3 linked regions of the Homo sapiens genome follow. The protein of the gene in region 2 interacts with the protein of the main gene of each other region in a biochemical or structural test. Each region holds a gene or a part of one and is shown on either strand. Other genes may lie near its edges.

Evidence for each region.
Region 1: the proteins of PRKAR2A (region 2) and PALM2AKAP2 form a complex in vitro, tested with the Homo sapiens proteins (2 studies listed by BioGRID, with this or other methods).
Region 3: the proteins of PRKAR2A (region 2) and RAB32 interact in a test that uses a peptide from one of them, tested with the Homo sapiens proteins (2 studies listed by BioGRID, with this or other methods).

What each region holds. Positions count from the first base shown.
Region 1 is NC_000009.12:109,775,739-109,783,204, forward strand, and holds the start of PALM2AKAP2 (PALM2-AKAP2 protein isoform 3 (PALM2-AKAP2)), read left to right. Parts: upstream 1-4,459; 5' UTR 4,460-4,749; coding exon of another isoform or gene 4,750-4,750; coding exon 4,751-4,795; intron 4,796-7,466. UniProt on the Homo sapiens protein: Binds to regulatory subunit (RII) of protein kinase A. May be involved in establishing polarity in signaling systems or in integrating PKA-RII isoforms with downstream effectors to capture, amplify and focus diffuse, trans-cellular signals carried by cAMP.
Region 2 is NC_000003.12:48,844,875-48,852,496, reverse strand, and holds the start of PRKAR2A (cAMP-dependent protein kinase type II-alpha regulatory subunit), read left to right. Parts: upstream 1-4,622; 5' UTR 4,623-4,900; coding exon 4,901-5,162; intron 5,163-7,622. UniProt on the Homo sapiens protein: Regulatory subunit of the cAMP-dependent protein kinases involved in cAMP signaling in cells. Type II regulatory chains mediate membrane association by binding to anchoring proteins, including the MAP2 kinase.
Region 3 is NC_000006.12:146,538,828-146,546,839, forward strand, and holds the start of RAB32 (ras-related protein Rab-32), read left to right. Parts: upstream 1-5,005; 5' UTR 5,006-5,044; coding exon 5,045-5,294; intron 5,295-8,012. UniProt on the Homo sapiens protein: The small GTPases Rab are key regulators of intracellular membrane trafficking, from the formation of transport vesicles to their fusion with membranes.

The DNA of each region.
Region 1 (7,466 bases), on a different chromosome or scaffold from region 2:
ACACAACGGGCCTTGGCAAGTCATTTCCCTTTTGGTATACAGAGCTCTTGTTTTCCCCACAAAGGAATTGGCTATGATCGTTTGTGATTCTCAAAGGACTCATGTTCTAAAATAGATTCTGAAATTTTTATTAACAAAACATCTATTTTGCATATCTAGCATTCTGTATCCTTTTCGTATAATGCTTTGCAATGAAGCATCTATCATAAAAACCACTAAACCGTACAGATGGTGTTTATGCAACACAATTTAATGTCCCAGCAAGAACTAGTGATTTGTTACATACATTATGCATCATTGTGATGTATATATCCAGATTTTAAATGTTTGGAGGGCAAATAGTCACCAATATCATTGTGGCACTAGACTACGATTTTTTTTCTTAATACCAGGCCATGGCCAAACATCTAATATAAAATAATTATACAATATGTTTATTAAATAAATAGCATAGTTTGGGTTTTAAATGCCTGTGTTTGTAATGGGTTCAAAGATTTTAAAATACTAAAATTTAGAAAGTTGAAAGAAGTGCTGGAAGAGGAAAAAAGATTTTCCCTCTGCTCCTTGGCCAACCATCAGGCAGTCATTTCATGTGCCTTCCTGTTTCACCTAGGGTTCTTGGTCCCAAGCAACAGAAATAGATTCTGGCTGATAGGAGCAGAAAAAGAATGAAATGAAATTGTATTAGATAGCTCACAGGAGAGATGGAACGTCCAAAGAAGGAAGCTTGGGCAATGGGTACAACCAAAGGTGAACTAATAGCCTGAAGGAATTCTCTAACATGCTCAGTCTCCAAAATTCTTGGCAGGCACACATGCCTGACTGAGCCGAGATTGCCTGCCATACCATGGCTTCAGGGGGATCTGGGGAACAAGTGTCTGATACCTCCCAGCTTCTACCACAGGATGTGGCTCTGCCTCTCACTATGGCTTTTAATATGGGAAATCCCCAAAGATGGGAAGGAGTTCACAAATTGGCCAGCCAGAGGAAAAAAAAATGTGTATATGAACAAGTCTGTTACACTTCCTACCTGGCCAGAAGCATTTTGAATTTCCTCTCTTCTTTGGCTTTTTGTCTTACCTGCTTTGATAATCCGCAACACTGAATAAACACAAGCTTTTTTTATTGTGGGTCTCAGGGCAGTTAAAAATCACTTAGGAAGTACACACTATTGGTCATGAGTCTTTAGTCTATTCCTAGTAAATTCAATTAGTACAAAGGTTCTAAACCCATCCCTAACTCCCACATCACCCTGTAGAAATTTAATTCTGTACAGGTCTTCAGGAGATTCTGATGCAGATTTCTGATTAGGAACCATGTTTTAGTCTTTCTCATCTTTCACAGTTTCTTTACAAACGATTTCTATTTTTCTGAAGCCCCAACCCTACGCCATCAGTCTTAATCAATGACTCTTTGTTCAATTGGGAAAACCAGTCCATCTGATGCAAATTCACTTAACCTCTCTCCTGAGAGTTGAACTCAAACTTTCTTCTTGTCTTTATCCATTTCTTCCTCCTTCCCTACTTCGTTATTCCTTCTTCCCAAGGCTAACTGGCTAATGTGATGCTCATCTGAATGTCCTCTTGACTAATTAGAGACTTTGACTAATATTCACCTTCCTTTTTGACTGTATCTTTGGCCTAATTTCCCTGTTGTCTAATTTGCTTTGACCCCCAAACATCCAAGTCTTGCCTGACCTAAAAACCCTTTCCACTAGACCCTGCTTCCCATGGGCTATGTTCCTGTTCTCCACCTTCATCTTTCACATCTGAAGAGCTGAAAGAAGCAGTTTGTACTCATGGTTGCTTCTCTGATCTCTCGCTCATCCCCATTTTTGTTTGTTTTATTTTCAACATTCACTTGGTAGCAGTCATTCCTCACCTCTTGTAAGTGCTTCCAAGCTCATCTTCTGGACACAAGTCACTCATGGCTTACTGACAGCCCTCCAATGGTCTCTTCTTCATCTGCATCCCCCATGACCTTTCAGAAGCATATGACCCTGTTGAAAACCTCTTTCCTTCTTTGTGGCTTTTGGTGCAAATCCCTTTGAATTTTTCCTTCTACTTCTCGGATGATACTTTATCAGTCTTCTTTGCTGGGCTCTCTCCTCTTCTTGCTCTGTTTTCTCATCCTGGCTGTTCTCATTTCTTTAGCTGTAACCGCAAAGTAGATGACACTTGGATGTGTGTCCCCAACCCCGATTCTTCTATTCAGAGTTCAGATATTTCCAACTGATCACTTCCAAAGGGTGCCCAGGCCCTTTTCCTTCTCCATCTCCCCATTCCATCACTCCTTTTAAAAATTTATTGCGGTTAAAAATACAAAACTTAAAATTTACCATTTCAACCACTTTTAAGCATATGGTTTGATGACAGTAAGTACATTCACACTGTTGTGCTCAATCATACCTTTTAAATATCTGTATAGCTGGGAGTAGAAGGACCATTTCTGGTTCAATTGTTTATTCCTGGGGCCTGCTTCTATCTCCATATCATTGGCCAAGCCTGGTGCTTAATGGTTAAGAGCATGGGCTCTGGTGAGTGTGATCTGAGTTTAAATCCCAGCTCTATAACTGTAGCTGAGTCTTTCAACCTCTCTGGTCTCATTTTCCTCATCTTAGTATTCTCTACAATCACTCTGCTGAAGCAATAACAGCTTTGTTTATTTGTGAGCAAACCCCTTTAAATAACTTGTCCTGCTGGGGCTTGTGCTGGAAATGAAGAAAAAAGGATGCATTTGAAGAAAAGGATGGGCTTAGCCAGAAAGTAGAAGTTTCTGATATATTGGAGTGGGATGTAGAATCTGGCACTGGCTTGGATTTATTAAACAATCAGCTCCACCTACACTTGTTATGAAAAAGATGGGAAAACAATCCATCAGTAAACGATTTTGGTGAGTGCTTCCATCTTTGGTCAGAGGAGTAATTGTTCATCAGTGACAGGTGAACCTCTGTGAAAATTGAAAGGGCAATTTAGTTGAAATGGAAGCATTTATTCAGGAAACAGGTGATCTGGGAAAATTTGATGTGCATTTTTTTTTTTTTTTTTGAGACAGAGTTTCACTCTTGTTGCCCAGGCTGGAGTGCAATGATGTGATCTCGGCTCACTGCAACCTCTGCCTCCCAGGTTCCAGTGATTCTCCTGCCTCGGCTTCCCAAGTAGCTGGGATTACAGGTGCCTGCCACCACGCCCGGCTAATTTTTTGTATTTTTAGTAGAGAAGGGGTTTCACCATGTTGGCCAGGCTGGTCTCGAACTCCTGACCTTAGGTGATCCACCCGCCTTGGCCTCCCAAAGTGCTGGGATTACAGGTGTGAGCCACCGCATCTGGCCTGATGTGTATATCTTTTAACATGCCTTTAAATCCTATGGCTCTAAAGAGGCCATATTAGTTATTTCAGTGTTTATTTCATTTGATGAAGAAACGTTTGCATATGAATGTTGGGAATTCTAGCAGGTCCTGCCTCAATGTGAAGAGGCATTTTTTTTTGCTTTTGGCATTGATCTCCTTTTGGACTGGGCCTGATCCACTTCTTACATCCAGTCCAGGACCTGTCACAAAAGACTCACATTAGTACCACATGGTATCCTGTTTTAGTAAAGAATAGGTGAAATATTTTAGTGAGTAGATCCTACTTTTCCTTTCAGATGCAATGAACAGAAGACCCTGAAAGGATTTCAATCCAGAATGTCACAGGATAATAAGAGCAGATGTCTGTGATGCCCTTTACAAAGCACCTTTACATACTGTCTCTCATTCGTCTCTAATGACACCTATGTGATCCTCCATTTTTTCAGATGAGGAAACTGAGGTTCAGAGTGATTAAGCGAGTTGCCTGAGATTTCACAGCTAACACATTGTGAAATCTAGTCTAGCACCCAGGACTAAAAACTCTCGGCTTCTTTTAAGGCCACATATCGCCTCACCAGAAGGGTGGCCTCTCTGGAGATATACCCTACCCTCGGCCGACTTGATATTGAGAACTTGGTCATCTTAAGCATGTGGGCCACTTGGGCAAGGCAGCCCTTCCCAAATTGTAAATGTCCCCACGTGGAGCTCAAGCGTCTGGCTTGAGCCAGAAGGTGCCCTGAACACTCGGTGGCCCCAGCCCCCACGTAACAGCACGTGCTCGGGTCCCACATTCGGTCAGACGCCCCTCTCCACTGGCATCTGCCCGGTGGAGGCGCCACTGCGCTCTGCCTCCGCCCCAGCAAGCGCGTGTCCACGCGGGCGCGCCACGCCAGCCGTGCGCCCCAGCGGCTCGCCGTGCGCCCGCGCCCCAGGTGCCCACTGGCTCGCGCGCCCTCCGTCTGCGCCTTGGAGACCCGCGGCGGCGATCGCTCGGAGCCGCCTTGGACCGCGGCCTCGGGTCCATCACACTCCAGGGGCGGAGCGAGGCACCGAGACGTCAGGGCGGAGAACTAGCGCCGGGCTAGCGCGCCCTCCCGGCGGCTGCCGGCGTCCCACGTCCTCGGCTGGCGCGGCCGGCGGCGGCGGCGACCGGGAGATGCAGTGAGCGGCGGCGCTGGGGCGCAGCCAGGCGGCCGGGAGGGCGGGGGCCAGAGGCTGAGCCCGGGCGAGCCCGCCGTGCGCACAGCTCTGCCCGCCGCCCCTGGAGCGGATCCCCAGCCGTCCCTGGGCGTTCTCCCGGGTTCTAGCAAAGCCCCCCGGGGTGCCCATCAGTTTCCTTGGGTGACTACAGCGTGTGTTTTTTCTTTCCTCTTTCCCCTGCCTGTGTGCCCTTCTCCAGGATGGCAGAGGCGGAATTGCACAAGGAAAGGCTGCAAGCCATAGCAGTAAGTCCACTTTCATTTTATTTTCTTGCTCTATTGTCTGGGGTGGAAGGGGGCCCCCGAGGGTTTCGGGGCAAGCGGCATGCCAGCACAGTAGCCGCAGGTCATATGTTCCAGGGGCTAAAACTCTGTCAGGGCTCAGCTAGGCTGCCTTTTCTTTTCTATGTCTATAGATGGAGACCCCCAAGGGCGCGCTTTGGACTGAGGATTTGAATGTGGAAGATTGGCTTAAAAAAAGATGCTTGCTGCTGGGCTTTGGGGAAGGACTAAACAGAGGCTTGGGGTGGGGGGACGACTCCAGGAATATTATGACCGAATGCTCAGGCATACGTTGGCTTCATAGCCTGGAGAACCAAGAGAAGGGTGACCTGAACGGTGGCTGCCATCCTCTCTGCGGAAGCTGTCCTCCTGTTAAGTGGAAAACCAGGAGTCAGCGACTCAGCCAGCCACGCGGTAGAACCTCCTCCCAGAAACCGGGAATGTTAGTTTTCCCTTCTCTGTTTGATATTGACAAGGGCACTGGCACAAGCCACCACCCTGGAGGTCTGGGGACTTCATACAACTGGGTCCTGGTTATAATATTCCATGAGAGCCTCCTTCTTATGGTGTGGAGTATCTGAAAACCTATTTTCAGCCTACAAAGGAGTAGTCAGTTTTGGCAAAGTTCGTAGGCACTTTCAGAAAAGTGTACCCATGTGCATCTTGGGTTTAAAAAAGAACTCTCTGAGACTGCCTAGATTTGAGCAATCTTAACACAGTGTTGCCAATGATCCACAGATGTGGTATTTTTACTGGAGCCACCACAGCTGGATTATATATTTCCTTCGAGGATGAGGGAATGATTACTGCTGCCGTATGAAATAGTAACAATTAAAAAAGAAGGTCCGTTAACATATTGGCATAAAAGAATCTCCAGACATTCTTCCACCTAAATACATTTGTGTTTTTCAGTTCGGAAGTTCTCTGGAAACACATATAAATTTGTTGGAGAAATAGTGTGTAATGTTTTGGAACCAAAGTATATTAAAGCGTTTTCCAAAACCTTTTTGGACAGATTCTTCATTGGGAAAATGCACACAGACCCTTCCTTTTTTAGAAGCATTTGACATGGTCTCCAAGGCTCTGAGACCCTCTTTCTCAAACGCCTCAAATCTGAAATGTCTTGGAGACTTCACCACTGAAGTGAGAGAGATGTTTGCTGGCAATATTGAAATGCCATGGTTTGCCTATTAGGTAATCTTTGAACGTGGTGCTCTGAACTCAGAAAGGTTGTTTTTTTCTTCTTTCTCTTTCCCCCTGTGCATGTGTATTTTGATGGTTTGTGAAGTTATTTGTGGTTTCTAAAGTTGGTGGCAAGGCAGCATGGCCAGTGTGTCATGAACTTGATAAGAATGGTGATATTGAGTTAATGGTGCCATGTAGCTGGTGGGTGTTTTGTGTGAACTGGATAATAGGCTGCTTTAACTGTTGATGCAGTGGCTGTTCCCATTGGCTGCTGCTGAAGGCTTCCAACAGTTGTCACATTTTCTGCCTTTGCACAACCAGCTTTACTGGATGCCTGAGGAACAGCTGAACTCCATGAAAGGACTTGCTTTCCAAACATGGAGCCAGTAGCTGCTAACACTGGGGTACCCTTTTCCAAGTGCGGTTGAGTAATCCCAGCAGAGGCCAAGTCGATTTTCCAAGAAAGATCTAGGCAAATCTTTGGGAATTCTCTTGAGCATATAAGAATACACACAAATACTCACTTGTGCCTCTTCAGTTATTGAAGAATTGAGTTTGTCCTGTGTATCTGGGGAGCTGTTGATTATTCTCATGAATGTGCACCTAATACAGTCTGCCCTCCCTATTCATGGGTTCCATATCCACGCCTTCAGTCAATCTTGGATTGAAACTATTGGAAAAAATAATAGATAGCTGAGTCTGTACTGAACATGTACAGACTTTTTCTTGTCACCATTCCCTAAATAATACAGTATAATCAACTGTTTACGTCGCATTTACAGTGTATTAGGTATTATAAATAATCTGAAAATGATTAATGTATGTGGGAGGATGTGAGTAGGTTATATGCAAATACCATGCTATTTTATAGGGACTTGAGCATCCTTTGATTTTGGTATCCAAGGGGGTCCTGAAACCAATTCTCTGAGGATACTGAGGGATGACTGTATGATGTTGTCAGGACAGATTTGCTAACAGCGTGTGTTTGTTTGTGTGTGTGTGTGTGTGTGTGTGTGTGTGTGTATGTGTGTGTGAGAGAGAGAGCCAATTAAGAGACAGAGGGAGTTGGGTGGGGGGACTTATGGCCACATCGGTAAATGGTTTTATGCTATGCTTTGGTCTAGTGCCTACTCTTCTGAATTCTGCAAACCCTGACTCTCTCATCACTTTCCTGGAGTTCTCAGGGGACCCTGAGGAGATCACAAGCCTGCCCCCAGAACCTAGCACTCCTGAAGTCTCTCTGGAGATGTGAGGGAAGAAGACAATAGGTCCTCACATCTTCACTTACTTGGGCTTCTCTCTCAGAGGCAGAGAATCGACTGGGATTCCAGTCTGCAGGGCCTTGGGCAGTCTTTAGTCTGGGTCTCAGCTCCTTCATCTGTAGAATGGGTTCATGAGTTCTACCTCCTGGGCTGGTTGTAAGGTTTAGTTAGGATGGAGGTGAAGCACC
Region 2 (7,622 bases):
CGTGGCCTGGGAGCTAACTGCTCCCTGGAGCATGGGCACTTGTTAAAACAGATTAGATTTCCTGGGCAAAAGGCAATGGCCTCGCTGGAGGAGCCACAGTAGAGGCTGAAAGACAGCTTGGGTAAGGGCCGAGAAAACATAGCCCACTTCCTCAATCTCTCTTGCCAACTAAAGGCTCATGAACACTTCTAAGGCAACATAGAAGCTGTTGCTTGTAGGAACTAAGTGAGCTGGGAGTACTAAATCCAGGAGGGCCTGGCATGTAGAGGTGGTCAGGTGACCAGCGGATCCCAGGAAATGGGTGGGGGACTGGAATGGCTTAGAAAAGTGGTCCCTTGATCAAGTAAGAGGGAGGTTTTCCTGCTGGACCTGAGTCCTGCAAGTATGCAGAGGGCATAAGGTATTTAAGCTGGAGGATCTGAGCCAAGAGCAGGCCTTCAGAGGAGTTCGGGGAAGTTTAGGCCCCTCTCTTCATCTTGGAGAGACAGACAGAAACGTTTGAATAACAAACCTATCAAGAGCACACAAAATTCATTGTTTCATTGGAAACAGCAATGGTACCCTACCCATTTTCGTTTTCACCAAGACCCGTTGCTTTTGGGCTAAACAACATGTGTCCCACCTGTGCTACTCTGCATCCATAGTTGCAAACATCTCTGCAAATTGGCCCCATTGTGTCCATATCTGTGCCTCTGGTTGGTGATATGGCAGTTTGTGCAAGACGTTGACTGCCTGCTGAGTTGTGAGTAGGATTAGATTTGAGTGTAGCACCCTCAGGGTTCTGGGGCCTCCTCCTGTGTACTTCTCTTCCTTCTAAGAGTCTCTGCTGTTGGCCTTTTCCACCATCAGTTGCTCTTGGCAGCTGTATCTCAGTTACCGGCTGCCTCTGGGTTTAGTTGCCATGGTAACCTCCAGTGGTGCAGCTGGACAGGCTTGAATGCAGGCAGGATAAATGCAGGATAAGGGTAGAAGATGCGGGGTTCAGGCTCCTGGTGTTCTGTCCTGTTACAGGGCCCTCTTCTTTAGCCAGTTCAACTAGATATTCATGAAGACCCTGGGGGCTCTACTTGTTACTGAAGGGTTGACCAGAAGTGGGAGAGATGCACCCCTGCTCTGGGGACCAAGTGCTGGGGGAGAGTGCCAGGTTAAACCTGGAGGCTGGCTGCCCATCCTTGCTCTAAGACTAGTCTATGGAGACCCATGAGGAGCAGCTGTAGGACTCCTGCTTTCTGTGGCTATATGGCAGACACACCTGTGTATGGTAGCTGCACCTGACAGCAATAACTTAAGCATACTCTGAGAATGACCCTGTATGGCAGATGCACCTGAATGTGTTAGGAGTTCCAAGTGAGGACAAGCCAGAGATTCATTACTTACCCATGAGGAATATCTGAGCCCCCATTCTGTCCTGTGGATGTACAGGGGATTTAGCCCCTTTGTTTTGGGTTAAATCAAAGTTGTTAGGGGGAGGGTGTTAAGTGAAAATGCTATATATACTGCATACTTTCTGCAGGTGGGGCAGTTCTCCTATCTAGCCCACCTCCACTGGACTGCTCTGTATGCAAATTCCCCTCAATCAAACCTAAGTCTTGTTTGCTGGCTCTGGATCTCTTTTGGCCTCTCAAACCTGGTGCCATCCCTACTGAAGTTAATGGGGGTCTGGTGGCCAGGTGCGATGGCTCACACCTATAATTCCAGCACTTTGGAAGGCTGAGGCGGGTGGATCGCCTGAGGTCAGGAGTTCGTGACCAGTCTGGCCCTGTCTGTACTAAAAATACAAAAATTAGCCAGGCGTGGTGGTGTGCGCCTGTAGTCCCAGCTACTCGGGAGGCTGAGGCAGGAGAATGGCTTGAACCCAGGAGGTGGAGGTTGCAGTGAGCAGAGATTGCGCCACTGCACTCCAGCCTGAGCGACAGAGCAAGACTCCATCTCAAAAAAGAAAACAAAACAAAATATGGGTCTTTCTTGGCCGGGCGTGGTGACTCATGCTGGTAATCCCAGCATTTTGGGAAGCTGAGGCAGGCGGATCACCTGAGGTCAGGAGTTCAAGACCAGCCTGGCCAATATGGTGAAACCCCATCTGCACTAAAAATACAAAAAATAAGCCGGGCGTGGTGGTGCGCACCTATAATCCCAGCTACTTGGGAGGCTGAGACACGAGAATCGCTTGAACCTGGGAGGTGGAGGTTGCAGTGAGCCGAGATCGCGTCACTGCACTCCAGCCTGGGCAACAGAGTAAGACTGTGTCTCAAAAAAACAAACAGGCCAGGCGTGGTGGCTCACGCCTGTAATCCCAGCACTTTGGGAGGCCAAGGCAGGCGGATCATGAGGTCAGGAAATCCAGACCATCCTGGCTAACATGGTGAAACCCCGTCTCTACTAAAAAATACAAAAAATTAGCTGGGCATGGTGGCGCACGCCTGTAGTCCCAGCTACTCTGGAGGCTGAGGCAGGAGAATGGCATGAACCCGGGAGGTGGAGCTTGCAATGGGCCGAGATCATGCCACTGCACTCCAGCCTGGGCAACAGAGCAAGACTCCATCTCAAAAACAAACCCAAACAAACAAAATGGCCAGGTGCAGTGCCTCACGCCTGTAATCCCAGAACTTTGGGAGGCTAAGGCGGGCAGATCCCTAGGTCAGGAGTTCGAGACCATCCTGGCCAACATGGCAAAACCCCGTCTCTACTGAAAATACAAAAATTAACTGGGCATGGTGGCAGGTGCCTATAATCCCAGCTACACAGGAGGCTGATGCAGGAGAATTGCTTGAACCTGGGAGGTGGAGGTTGCAGTGAGCTGAGATCGTGCCATTGCACTCCACCTTGGGCGACAAAAGGAAGACTCCATCTAAAAGAAAAAAAAAAAGCCAGGTGCGGTGGCTCACGCCTGTAATCCCAGCACTTTGGGAGGCTGAGGCGGGTGGATCACGAGGTCAAGAGATTGAGACCATCCTGGCCAACATGGAGAAACCCCATCTCTACTAAAAATAGAAAAAATTTGCTGGGTGTGGTGGTGCACGCCTGTAGTACCAGCTACTTGGGAGGCTGAGACAGGAGAATCGCTTGAACCTGGGAGGCAGAGCTTGCAGTGAGCAGAGGTCATGCCATTGCACTCCAGCCTGGGCGACAGAGTGAGACTCCTCTCAAAAAAAAATAGGGGCCTGGCAGAACGGTCGCCCTCATTCCTTCCAGATGCCTTTTGAATGCTCTGCTGGATGGGTGGTTGGCTGAGCCGTGGGGCATCTGAGAACAAGTCAGTAGACCTTCTCCAAGAGTATGCAATAAGGACTGAGCAGGAAAAAAGTTGGAGACTGCCTGTCCCCTCACAAAGTTGATGGTCTAACATTCTTCTCAGGGTCAAGAAACTTGTCCAGGGAGACACTGCTGTTTATAATCACAGGCCTGCTTAGCCTAGAACCTGGGCTGGCCTCTTCATCAGTGGGGATGAGGGCTCCTTGCTCCCAGCTGCTCAGCTCCCAGCAGCATTGAGCTCCTGGGTGTGTGCCAAGCCTGTATGGGAGGTGATAGGGAGGATTTTAATTAATACTGAGTAATTACCAGGCGGTGTTTAAGCATCCCAAATGCCCTCAGGTTCCCAAACCTACAGCTACTCTCTTCCTGGCTAGGCCTGTAAGGAGAGGGGGACTCTGCTCTATGCCCAGTGGGCCTTTGGTTAGCACGTAGGCTGTAGACTGGACATCCCAGGAAGGTCTCCACCTTTTTCAATACCCTTCCAGTTTGGTAGGAGGAGGAGGGCAATTTGGGAAATAGTCTGGCCTCTACAGTTCACCTATACCATCTTCCCAGGGGCAAAGGATAACAATGCCTGTGGTCTGCTCAACTTCATCAAGCAGTGTTGACCTAGGGCCCAGTGTAGAATGTGGGGAGAGGAATGGGCAGACCTAGATCTGGGGACCCTGGTGAAAGTGCTCCAGGAGGAACAGGCACAGAGGTCTTTGCTGCTTTTGGCCTTATTTCCCTTTCTCACTGTACACATTTGGCTGAGTGAACTCTTTCAAATTTATTTTTCTGTCTGTGGCTCTCAAATTATGATCTCATTCAAACGCCTACTTCCTACAAGGCCTTACCCGTTTGACATCTCAGAGACCTGACAGACTCCTGAGTTATTCCACCATTCCACCTGGCAGCCAAGGTGGTCTTGACTCCACCAGGCCTTTGCTCTTGTTGTATGTTCAGATGGCTTTCCTCCAGATCTTCCCCTGGGCGGGTCCTGCTCAGGCCTCGGGGCTAGCTTGAATGTCACGCCGGAAAGTGAGCCCTCTCTTGCCCTTCATCACAGCAGAATCACACTGATGTGCTCGTATGCTTCTGCTTCTCGCTGTGTCTCTGGTGCTTAGTAAGTGCTGGCCAAAAAGAGGCTCTTGGCATCAGCTGAAAGAATAATTTAAAGGTCTTCAGGACCAGGCGAGAGGCACTAATCGGTCCCCTTCATGGGTAGACCGTTCATTACCTAATTCCCTGGATTCCCTCCGTGAGCTGGCATCAGGAACACTCCACTGTCTCGACCCCCCGACAGCCCGAGGGGGCGGGTCATCTAGTGGCGCAAGCGCACTGAGGGCCGGTGCTAAGCGGGGACGCGCACGCCCGCGGTGGCGTGCGTCACAACCAGGACGCCTGCCCCGCCCGTCCAGCTCGCCTGCCCGTCGGTCCCCGCGGCGGCGGCGGCTGCCCAGTGACAGCGGCGGCGGTGCCAGGTCGGCCGTGGTAGCGTAGGGTTGCGCGGCCCGGAAACGCAGAGCCGGCCAAAGAGCGGCGCGACGTGAGCCGGGGCCGTGCGCGAAGAGACCTCGCGGGCGCGGAGCGAAAGGCCGGCGTGAGTGAGCGCGGAGACAGTGGCCGCCGGCGGCCCAACCCGTCTATCCCTTCGGCCGCCGCCGGCATGAGCCACATCCAGATCCCGCCGGGGCTCACGGAGCTGCTGCAGGGCTACACGGTGGAGGTGCTGCGACAGCAGCCGCCTGACCTCGTCGAATTCGCAGTGGAGTACTTCACCCGCCTGCGCGAGGCCCGCGCCCCAGCCTCAGTCCTGCCCGCCGCCACCCCACGCCAGAGCCTGGGCCACCCCCCGCCAGAACCCGGCCCGGACCGTGTCGCCGACGCCAAAGGGGACAGCGAGTCGGAGGAGGACGAGGACTTGGAAGGTAGGCTGTGGGCGGGGCCCTGGGGAGTGGTGCAGGAGGTCTCCAGAGGTCTAGAGGGGTGGCAGGGAGCCAGGTGTCGCGCCGCAGCCAAGCCGACCGCAGGCTGGGATTGGGAGCTCTGTAGCCGCGTTTCTAGCGTTTCCCTGAGACACCGGCGTGAGCCCGCGTGCGCCACTTCCAAATTGAGCTCCGCGATCCTGCGAGCCCTAGAGCGCACCGAGTGATTTGTCAGATCCAGCCTTGAAGGAAACGTGCGCGCTGTCGGCCCTGCTAGAGGATCCCTCGCCTTTGCTTAAGACCCTTCACCAGTTTTGGCTTCGAAGACAACAGCGTTCTCATCCAGTGACTTGTGTTTAATTGATAGGACAGTAAGTTTGTTTGGAAATAATAATTTTTTTTGAAAAGTTACTGTGAAAACTTTTAAGCATAGACAAAAGAGGAAAGGTGAGATGAATCCCTATATGCCATCACCTACATTTAACAGTTGCGTTTGTCACAAAGTTTCATCCATACCTTTTTTCTTTCTTTGCCGAAGTGTATTAAAGCAAATCTCTCAGGTCATTTCACCTCTGCTTACTTGAGTTTGTATTTCTTCAAACATGGTCCCTGGGAATATTCCTATTTTTAAAAACTTGGCCAAAACGATTGAATCAAATTTGGTGAGAGTAAATAATTATCTTGCCGGCCGGGGCAGTGGGCCCCTATAGTCTATACCAGCTACTCTGGAGGCTGAGGAGGAAATATCGCTTGAATCCAAGAGTTCGAGACCAGCCTGGGCAAAATAGACACCCTACCTCATTTTTGAAAACGAAAAACCTGGCCGGGCGTGGTGGGTCACGCCTGTAGTCCCAGCACTTTGGGAGGCCGAGGCGGGTGGATCACCTGAGGTCAGGAGTTCGAGACCAGCCTGGCCAACATGGCGAAACCCCGTCTCTACTAAAAATACAAAAATTAGCCGGGCGTGGTGGCGGGCGTCTGTAGTCCCAGCTACTTGGGAGGCTGAGGCAGGGAGAATCGCTTGAACCTGGGAGGCGGAGGTTGCAGTGAGCCAAGATCATGCCACTGCACTCCAGCCTGGGCGACAGAGCGAACTCCGTCTCAAAAAAAAAAAAAAAGAAAAAGGAAAAACCCAGTAACTATATTCTTGTTTAGTGGGTGGGTTGTAGCTTTAAAGGAAAGGATCCCAGCAGAGACTGAGATCAGGAGAGCAGCTTCATTGGCTCTACTTGCTGTGTCAGGATTTATCATTTAGTAATAGTAAACCTTCTCCAAGAGTTTGCAATAAACTCCAAGAGTACGCAATAAGGACCGAGCAGGAAACAAGTTGGAGACTGTCCCTCCCCTCACAGATTTGGTGATCCAAGATCATCACACCTTTTTTTTTTTTTAAAGTCAGGATCTCGCTCTGTCACCCAGGCTGGGGTGTAGTGGCACAATCAGGGCTCACTGCAACCCCAACCTCACAAGCTCAAGGTATCCTCCCACCTGGGCCTCCCAAGTAGCTGGGACTAAGGGCATGTGCCACCATGCCTTACTAATTTTAAGTGTTTTATAGAGACGGGGTCTCCCTGTGTTGCCCAGGCTGGTCTTGAACTCCTGGCCTCAAGTAATGCTCCTGCCTTGGCCTCCCAAAGTGCTAGGATTACAGGCATGAGCTACTGCTCCTGTCCAAAATAACACTTTCTACATCTGATCTACGCAAGAGTGTTAAGAAGCTATTACAGTTTCCTTGGTTGCTTCAACATATGCTTTGTCAATTTAACAGTAGAATTGGCCTACTTTTGAACAACTAAAATTTAACAAAACAATGAAACCATTTGAGAGGCCAAGTTAGGATCTTAGTGTTATTAGATCACACACACACAAAACTAGTTCTGAGTTGTATCTGGTCTGGCCCAGTATTCAAGTCACGGCAGGGAAGGAGTTAATTAACGGTCATTGCTGTGGGAGGTCACAAGCTTCAGTGCACTGGGCAATCTCCCTAAGTGTATTCATGCTAAAGGAGTAACAAGGGCTCTTCTGGGTTTCCCTTGATTTATTGCACATTACATCATGGGTTTTTGGGAAATCAGAAATTATTTTCTAAACTCTGCCACAGGTTTGCTTTGTGGTCTTGGACAAATTCTCAAACCTGTTTGATCTCAGATTTTCTTATCTTTAAGTTGAGGACAGTGACAACAATCTTCCAGGGACAAATTTGTTTTTAAAAGCTTTATTTCAGGTTTGTTTCACTGTCATCTCTGTAAATCACAAAGCAGTAACCTGCTTTGAGACAATTTTTATTTACACAACACTTTAGGATTTTAGAAATTAGCCTCAGATGAGTAAAAGTTTACAAGTTTTTTTTCTTTTTTATTATACTTTAAGTTTTAGGGTACATGTGCACAATGTGCAGGTTAGTTACATATGTATACATGTGCCATGCTGGTGTGCTGCACCCATTAACTCGTCATTTAGCAT
Region 3 (8,012 bases), on a different chromosome or scaffold from region 2:
CGCAGGAAGGATGAGGACAGTTTATTTGAGAGCCTGGGATGGGGTAATGGTTTGGAACATTCTAGATAAAAGGCATAGCAAATGCTGAAACATAATAAATGTGTAGGGGAACATCACAGGGTGACTTTCTGAGTGGGCTATTTTTTTATGTAGTAAATGGAAATGTCTGTTTAAAATAAAGGCAGTCGTATTTATTCAGTGACAAGTCTCAGATTACCTGTATTATGTTCTCTTTATTTCATGTGTGGAAAGAAAACTTGTTTTCCTCTAAAATGTCAGTTCAGGATTCTAACACTTATCCATTCTCCCCCAACCTTCTCCAGTTCAGGGCTGTACACGCAGATATTGTCCAACACTTACTTACAGTACTTGGTATTATGTATGTCTGGTTTCTTTAGTGTGTGCATCATGCTTATCTAGGTTTGTTTGTGTTTTAATACAGATTCCTGGGATCCCCTTCTAAAACATTAAAACAGAAGGTCGGGGCTAATTAACTAGCTAGCTCCCTAGGTAAGTCAGATACACAGCAAATGTGGGAACTACTGAATTCTAATCTGAACCCGTGTGTATTAGTCAGGGTTCTCTAGAGGGACAGGACTAATAGGATAGATGTATATATAAAGGGGAGTTTATTAAGGAGTATTCATTCACAAGATCACAAGGTGAAGTCCCACAGTAGGCCATCTGCAAGATGAAGAACAAGGAAGCCAGTCTGAGTCCTTGAACCTCAAAAGTAGGGAAGCCAACAGTGCAGCTGCCAATCTGTGGCTGAAGGCCTAAGAGCCCCTGGCAAACCACTGGTGTAAGTCCAAGAGTCCAAAAGCTGAAGAACTTGGAGTCTGATGTTCAAGGGCAGGAAGTATCCAGCACAGGAGAAAGATGAACACTGGAAGACTAGTCCGTCCACATTCCTCTGCCTGCTTTAATTCTAGCCACACTGGCAGCTGAATAGATGGTGCCCACCAAGGTTGAGGGTGGGTCTTCCTCTCCCAGTCCACTGACACAAGTGTTAATCTCCTTTGGCAACACCCTCACAGACACACCCATGAACAATACTTTGCATCCTTCAATCCAATCAAGTTGACATTAAATATTAACCATCACACCTTGCTAACAAAAGTGTGGTCTACCAACAGCATTGACATCACCTAGAAACTTGTTAGAAATTTTGAATTTCAGGTTCCATCCCAGATATGCTGAATCAGAATTTAAACTTTTCTAAGATCCTACATAATTTATGTGAACTTTAATAATTGTATTGTAGTAAGAACACAACATAAAATTTACTTTCTTAAATGTTTAAGTGTGCAAGACTATTGTTAACTGTAGGCACAATGTGGTGCAGCAGATCTCTAGAACTTATTCATCTTGCATAATTGAAATTAGCAATTTCCCTTTTCTCCCTGACTCCAGACCCTGAAAACCACCATTCTCCTTCCTGATTTTCTGAGTTTGGCTATTTTAGATACCTTATATAAGTGGATTCATGCAGAATTCTTCCTATTGTGACTGGCTTATTTCACTCGGCATAACGTCTTTGAGGTTCATCCATGTTGTTGCATATTGTGGAAATTCCTTATTTTTAAGGTGGAATAATATTCCATTATATAAGGATGGCTATTATATTTTTTAAAAGACAACAAGTGTTGGTAGAGATGCAGAGAAAATTGAACGCTTGTATACTGGTGATGAGAATGCAAAATGGTGCAGCCACTATAGAAAATAATATGGAGATTTCTCAAAAAATTAAAAATGGAACCACCATATGATCCAGCAATCCCACTTCCAGGTATTTCTCCAAAAGAATGAAAATCAGAATCTTGAAGAGATATTAGCACCCAAATGTTCAATACAGCACAATTGACAATAGTCAAAGTGTGGAAGCAATCTCAATATCTACGGAAGGATAAATGGATTTAAAAAAAAGTGGTATGTATTACTAGATACATAAGAACTTTTAAGTTCGAGAAGCAAATTCTGATCCAAACCACTGTGCTCCTAGACACTTAGCAGCAACATCTCCTGGGAACTTGTTAGAAATGCAAATTATTTGCCTCACCCTAGATCTGAATCAGAACCCCTCTGTTTTAACAAACCCAGAACTCTCAAGTTTGAAAACCACTCATCTAAACTCTTATCCTGTCTTTGAATCGTTGATCCACAACTTTATCCTGCCTTTAGCAGTGACCTTTTCTAATTTTAAGCACCACCACAATTCTACCTCTAAAGTCAGTGGAAATTCAGCAGGGCTAGAGAAGGACGAATAAAAAAAAACATCTATGGTATTACATACGTACGGAACAAAATGCTGCACTTTGTCCAAAAATTGGAGGATTTCCTTTTTTTCCCAAACTGTACATGGGTTTGGAAGGGCTCTCTAATTGGGTGAACATAAAAGCCATGTACTGGTTGGCTGTACTTCCACATCTGTGGTTTTTCAATAGCTATTCTAGAAAAAGGTTTTACTCCCACCTTGACTTCTAAATTTTAAAACGCCTCCATCTCTGAAAAACACTTTTCAATAATTGTCAATTAGAGTGAGGATAGTAGGGTAAGCAGCTGCTTTAGTTTATTTAAGGAAGCTGCCAGATGATGTCAGCTCCAGGTGTTTCTAAATATTAAGGTGATGGGGTGCATCCCTCAACTTTATAGATAGAGAAAGCAAGGGGCTGTCCCCCATGTTTCTTCTTTAAAATAAAAACCCACAAGTCTACTACTTTCCAATCAATTTCCTATGATTTATCTTAGAGCATTTACATCTAATCCAAACACTACCAGATGAAGGTTGAAAAAGGATTGTTAGGGAAGTAAAGTAAGATGGCTTCAGAGTCCCTGTGTCTTCTTTCTCAAACTCCTTCCATAATTTAAATGCTAAAGCATGATAAGGTTTTTAATAGACTATTTTGTTGTGTGTGTGTGTATATATATATATATCTATATCTAAGGTATACGGCATGATGCTTTGATATACATAGTGAAATAGTTACTAGAGTTAAGCAAATTAACAAATTAACATGTCCATCATCTCACATAGTTACACAATTTTTTCTTTTCATTTTTTCTTTTCTTTTTTTTTTTTTTTTTTTTTGAGATGGTCTCACTCTGTCGCCCAGGTGGAATACAGTGGTGCGATTAAGCTCACTGAAGCCTGGACCTCCCAGGCTCAGGTAGTCGTCCCACCTCAGTCTTCTGGGTAGCTGGGACTACAGGTGGGTGCCACCACACCTGGCTGCAATTTTTTTTTAATGGTAACAGCACTTACAGTCTACTCTCTTAGCAAATTTCCAGTTTAAAATACAATATTATTAACTATAACGCTCATGCTACATTAGATCATTAGGACTCATTCATCCTATATAACTGCAACTTTGTACACTTTGACCTGCATCATTCCGTTTCTTCCCTGCCCCTGGTAACCACCACTGTTTCCACGTATTCCGTGTGTGTGTGTGTGTGTGTGTGTGTGTTTAAGATTCCACATATAAGTGATATTGCACAGTATCTTTCTTTTTGTGTCTGGCTTATTTCGCTTAGCATAATGTCCTCCAGGTTTATCCATGTTGTTGCAAATGTCAGGATCGCCTTCTAAAGGCTGAATGATATTCCATTGTGTGTGTGTGTGCGTCTGTGTATATGCGCGCGTGCATGCCTATGTATGTATTACAATTTCTTTATCCATTCATCGTTAACAGACACTTTGGTTGTTTCCAAATCTTCGCAACTGTGAATAATGCTGCATGAACTTGAGAGCGATTTCTGAGATCCTGATTTCATTTCCTTTGAGTATACACCCAGAAGAGGGATAGCTGGGTCACTGGCTTTAGCAACGATTTTTGCAATATCACACCAAAAGCCCAGGCAACCAAAGCAAACCTAGATAAATGGGACTTCATCCAACTAAAATGCTTCTGCACCGCATAGGAAATAATCAACAAAATGAAAAAACAGCCTATAGATTGGGAGAAAATATTTGTGAGCCATATATCTGATAAGGGGTTAATATCCAAAATACATTACGTTCACAGAACTCAGCCAAAATAAATAAATAAAACACCCAGTTAACTAACGGGCAAAGGATGTGAATGGACTTTTTTTTTTTTTCCAGAGGAAGTACAAATTGCCAACAGGTATAAGAAAAGGCGCTCAAAATCACTAATGAACAGGGAAAAGCCACTAGGTATCTCCTCACACCTGCTAGGATGACTGTTATAAAAAAGATAAGCGATAATAAGTGTCGGTGATGTGCGGAGCAAAGGGAACCTTGTACACTGGTGGTGGGAATGCGGACTGGAACAGCCATTATGGAAAACCCTACGGAGGTTCACTCAAAAAGTTAAAAACAGAACTACCAGCCCAGTGTTATCCGTCCTTCGTTAAGTTCAAAGTCACGGTGCCACTTCCTTTCCCATCTAAAGGGGACTGCTCGCGACCCAAGCCAAGGCCCGCAAGTGTGGCTCTCCCTGCGGGGAGAGTAGGGCAGGAGGTGGATTTCCAGGCCAGAGGCTTCCAGGCTGGGCCCGGACCCCACGCCGACCCCGGCCCCGGGGGGGGCTCAGCGACCTCGGCGCCTCCTCAGGCCCCCAGTGAACCTCCGGGGCCCATAAAGGCTCCAGGCCGGCTCCCCGGAGGCCCACCAGCGGGCGTCTGGGCCTCCCTCCGCGCCGCGACCGCCAGGAGGCGCCGCCCGGGAGAGGAAGTCCAGCTGGGCCCGGCCGGGCTTCGGAGGCGCCGCCCGGGAGAGGAAGTCCAGTTGGGCCCGGCCGGGCTTCAGAGGCGCAGGGCGGGAGCCGCCTCGCGCAGGGTCCTCCCCAAGCCGGCGCCAGGCCCTGCCCTCGTCCGGCCCTGCCCTCGTCTGGCCCCGCCCGGGCCGCGAGCACTGGCGGGTTCTGGGTCCTGTGACCGGTCAGGCGGCGTCAGCGGGCGCGGCGGAGGGCTGGCCGGCCTCGGGGGAGTTTCCGCGGCCGCCGGGGGCGCGGCGGCAGAGCGCGAGGCCGGGCAGGGGGCCAGACTCGGAGTCGAGGCGCGCCCGACAGCCGCAGCGCTCATGGCGGGCGGAGGAGCCGGGGACCCCGGCCTGGGGGCGGCCGCCGCCCCAGCGCCCGAGACCCGCGAGCACCTCTTCAAGGTGCTGGTGATCGGCGAGCTTGGCGTGGGCAAGACCAGCATCATCAAGCGCTACGTCCACCAGCTCTTCTCCCAGCACTACCGGGCCACCATCGGGGTGGACTTCGCCCTCAAGGTCCTCAACTGGGACAGCAGGACTCTGGTGCGCCTGCAGCTGTGGGACATCGCGGGTAAGCGCGGCCGCGAGTTTCCCACTCCAGAGCCCCGCCGGGCCGCCTGGCTCCTCTCTGCTTCTTTTCTTTTTCTTTTCTGCCTGAACTCGTCTGCCTGGGTACCTTTAGGAGAAGAGAGAGGCCCAATCCAAGGGCGAGATGCGATGGACGCGGTCGGCTGGACTCGGTGGGGCCCAGAGGATGGGATGGGCAGTAGGAGTTGGAGCAGGTCCTGCACGCCAGAGCTCGCTCTCCTGAAGGGAGGCGAGGAGGCCAGGGGGCCTTTTCCAGAAGTTTGAACTCTGAATAATGCAAGTATATCATACATACACCAGGACTAGTTGAGAAGGCTGCTTTGGAGCGGGCCGGCGCCTCTCAGCCTCAACTCAAGTTCAGAGGGATTGGGTGACTTAACCCGAAGCTGCACTCCTAGTTAGTGACACCACCAAGACCAAAAGCCAGGTTCCTTTCCAGATCATTTTCCACCACCCGCCTTGGCTCTGAGACTGGCCTTTGTGAGGGAAACTCCATTCCTCAAATACTTTGCTCTCATCGGAAGCCGAGGACAGACACTCCGTGAAGATTTGGGAAAGCTTTTCTGAAACCTTACACTCACCCCTTCCTCTCTTGCTAAACCAACACCTAGTCCCATCCCTGGTGCCCTCGCCCCCCCCCGCCCCCCCCCCACTCCTCAATACAGTGTTTCTCTGCCATTTGCTTTCATTTGTTCTGTTTGAGGGGGTACATTTCCCTCTGCTCTGATTTATGAACACTTGAACTTTGCCTGGTGTGGTGGTTGGGAGTGGGCGTTTTAAAGATGATGTTAACTATTGGAAAGTTCATAGAAATGGTACCAAGCCAAGTGCCAGTGGCTCACGCCTGTAATCCCAGCACTTTGGAAGGCCTAGACTGGAGGATCGCATGAGCACAGGAGTTCGAGACCAGCCTGGGCTGTTAGTGAGACCCTGTCTCTACAAAATACATACATACATATATACATACATACATACAAAAAATTAGACAAGTGTGGTCGTGCGTGCCTGTAGTCCCAGCTACTCAGGAGCCTGAGGCAGGAGGATCACTTGACCCTAGGAGAGGTCAAGGCTTCAGTGAGCTGTGTTCTCACTGCTGTACTCCAGCCTGGTCAACAGAGTGAGACCCTATCTCAGAAAAAAAAAAAAAAAGTACGAAAATTACTCTGTTCAATCATTACAGGTGTTAAGAAGCACAGTCTGCAGTACAGCATTAGAATGGGAGCTGGTTTAGGGTTAGAGGACACCTGAGGCCACCCTTCATTCTACAGTCCCTACACTGAAGCCCATGGAGGGTATAGCTACCTGGCTGGTAGCAGAGTGGTTGGGGGGATCACAGGTCTACTGTCTGTCTGCCAGGTAGTGCTCTTGTCATTTATAGCTTGTTACATAAGAAAGAGTAGTAAATAATTGTAACCTATAACTCATTCATTTAAGAGCACATTTCTGTCCCTCAGACAGGAGAATAACTGTATGCAACTCAGTTGCTCAGAAAAAAGGAGTAATCAGCCAGGGACTCAGCTTTTTGTTGTTGTTTTTTGTTACCAAAAACCAAAAGTTCGTTTGAAAAGTCATCTTTGAAGCCAGAAGTTTTTTCGAAACACTTCCTGCCGTTGCACAGAACCCTAATGAGCAGTATTTCTGCTTCTTGACAAAGTCATGGATTCTAAAGGTTGCCTTACCATGTGACGGTCATTCTCCAGGAATCTGCAGCATAGCTGAGGTTTTTCACAAAGATGGTTTTAAAACCTTGCTTACAAGGGTGATTGACCTTGCCTTACTCTTTATGTAAATTATGGCATTTTGTTATTAAACTACGATTGGGTCCCACTGCTGGTAAATCAGTATGAGTAACTAGATTTTTAAGTGTTTATAGTTAGAAACTTGAGAAAGTAAAAGCAGGAGTAAGATACAAATTTTCTTTCTGGTATCACCTCTTCTTTTTTTATTAATCACAGACCTCGAATGACAGGAAGGGGTCATATCTAGTTTTTTATCAGACTCTGATAAACATCTGCCTAGATGGGATATCCTTGTACTTTTCACTAAATCCAAAGCTTGAGTTTTGCCAGGAAGGAAAACAAAAGTTTAAGATCTCCAAAAGGGATTTCTGGATGTTAGATATTGTTTCAACAGGTATTGTTGTCCCATACAGCAAGTACAGACCAGCAATTTACAAAATTAGAGGTAAATTTATAGAAATTATTAGGCTCACATTATAAGTAAGATTTTCAGAGATAGAATTTTAATATCTCTGAATATGAGGGAGAAAAATAGCTTAGTGAGAGACCAAAAACAAAAAAAAAACAAAAAAAACTGTTTTAGAGACCAAAAAAAGCAAAACAAAACAAAAAATCCTTAGCCTAAAGTTTGGAGAGCTACATTACTAACTGTTTGATTTGAATATTTGAGCTACTAGTGAATCTCAGCTCATACCATTTGAATTAAGTAATGATGATGTAATGAAGGCAAACTGATGGCTGCTCCACAAACTTCCCCCAGGGCTAAGCATACTTGCCTTATGTAGTAACAAAGTTGGATCATATTTAATTCTCAAATAATAGAAATATTCTTTGATTGCACAATAGTAGATAGAGCCAGCTACTTGCCATAACTAAGTTAAGGTGTGGTGTTTTTACTAGTTAGGTTTTTTTTTTTTTTTTTTTTTTGGTTGCTTCAGTGAGAGGGCGAGGTAGTGAAGAAA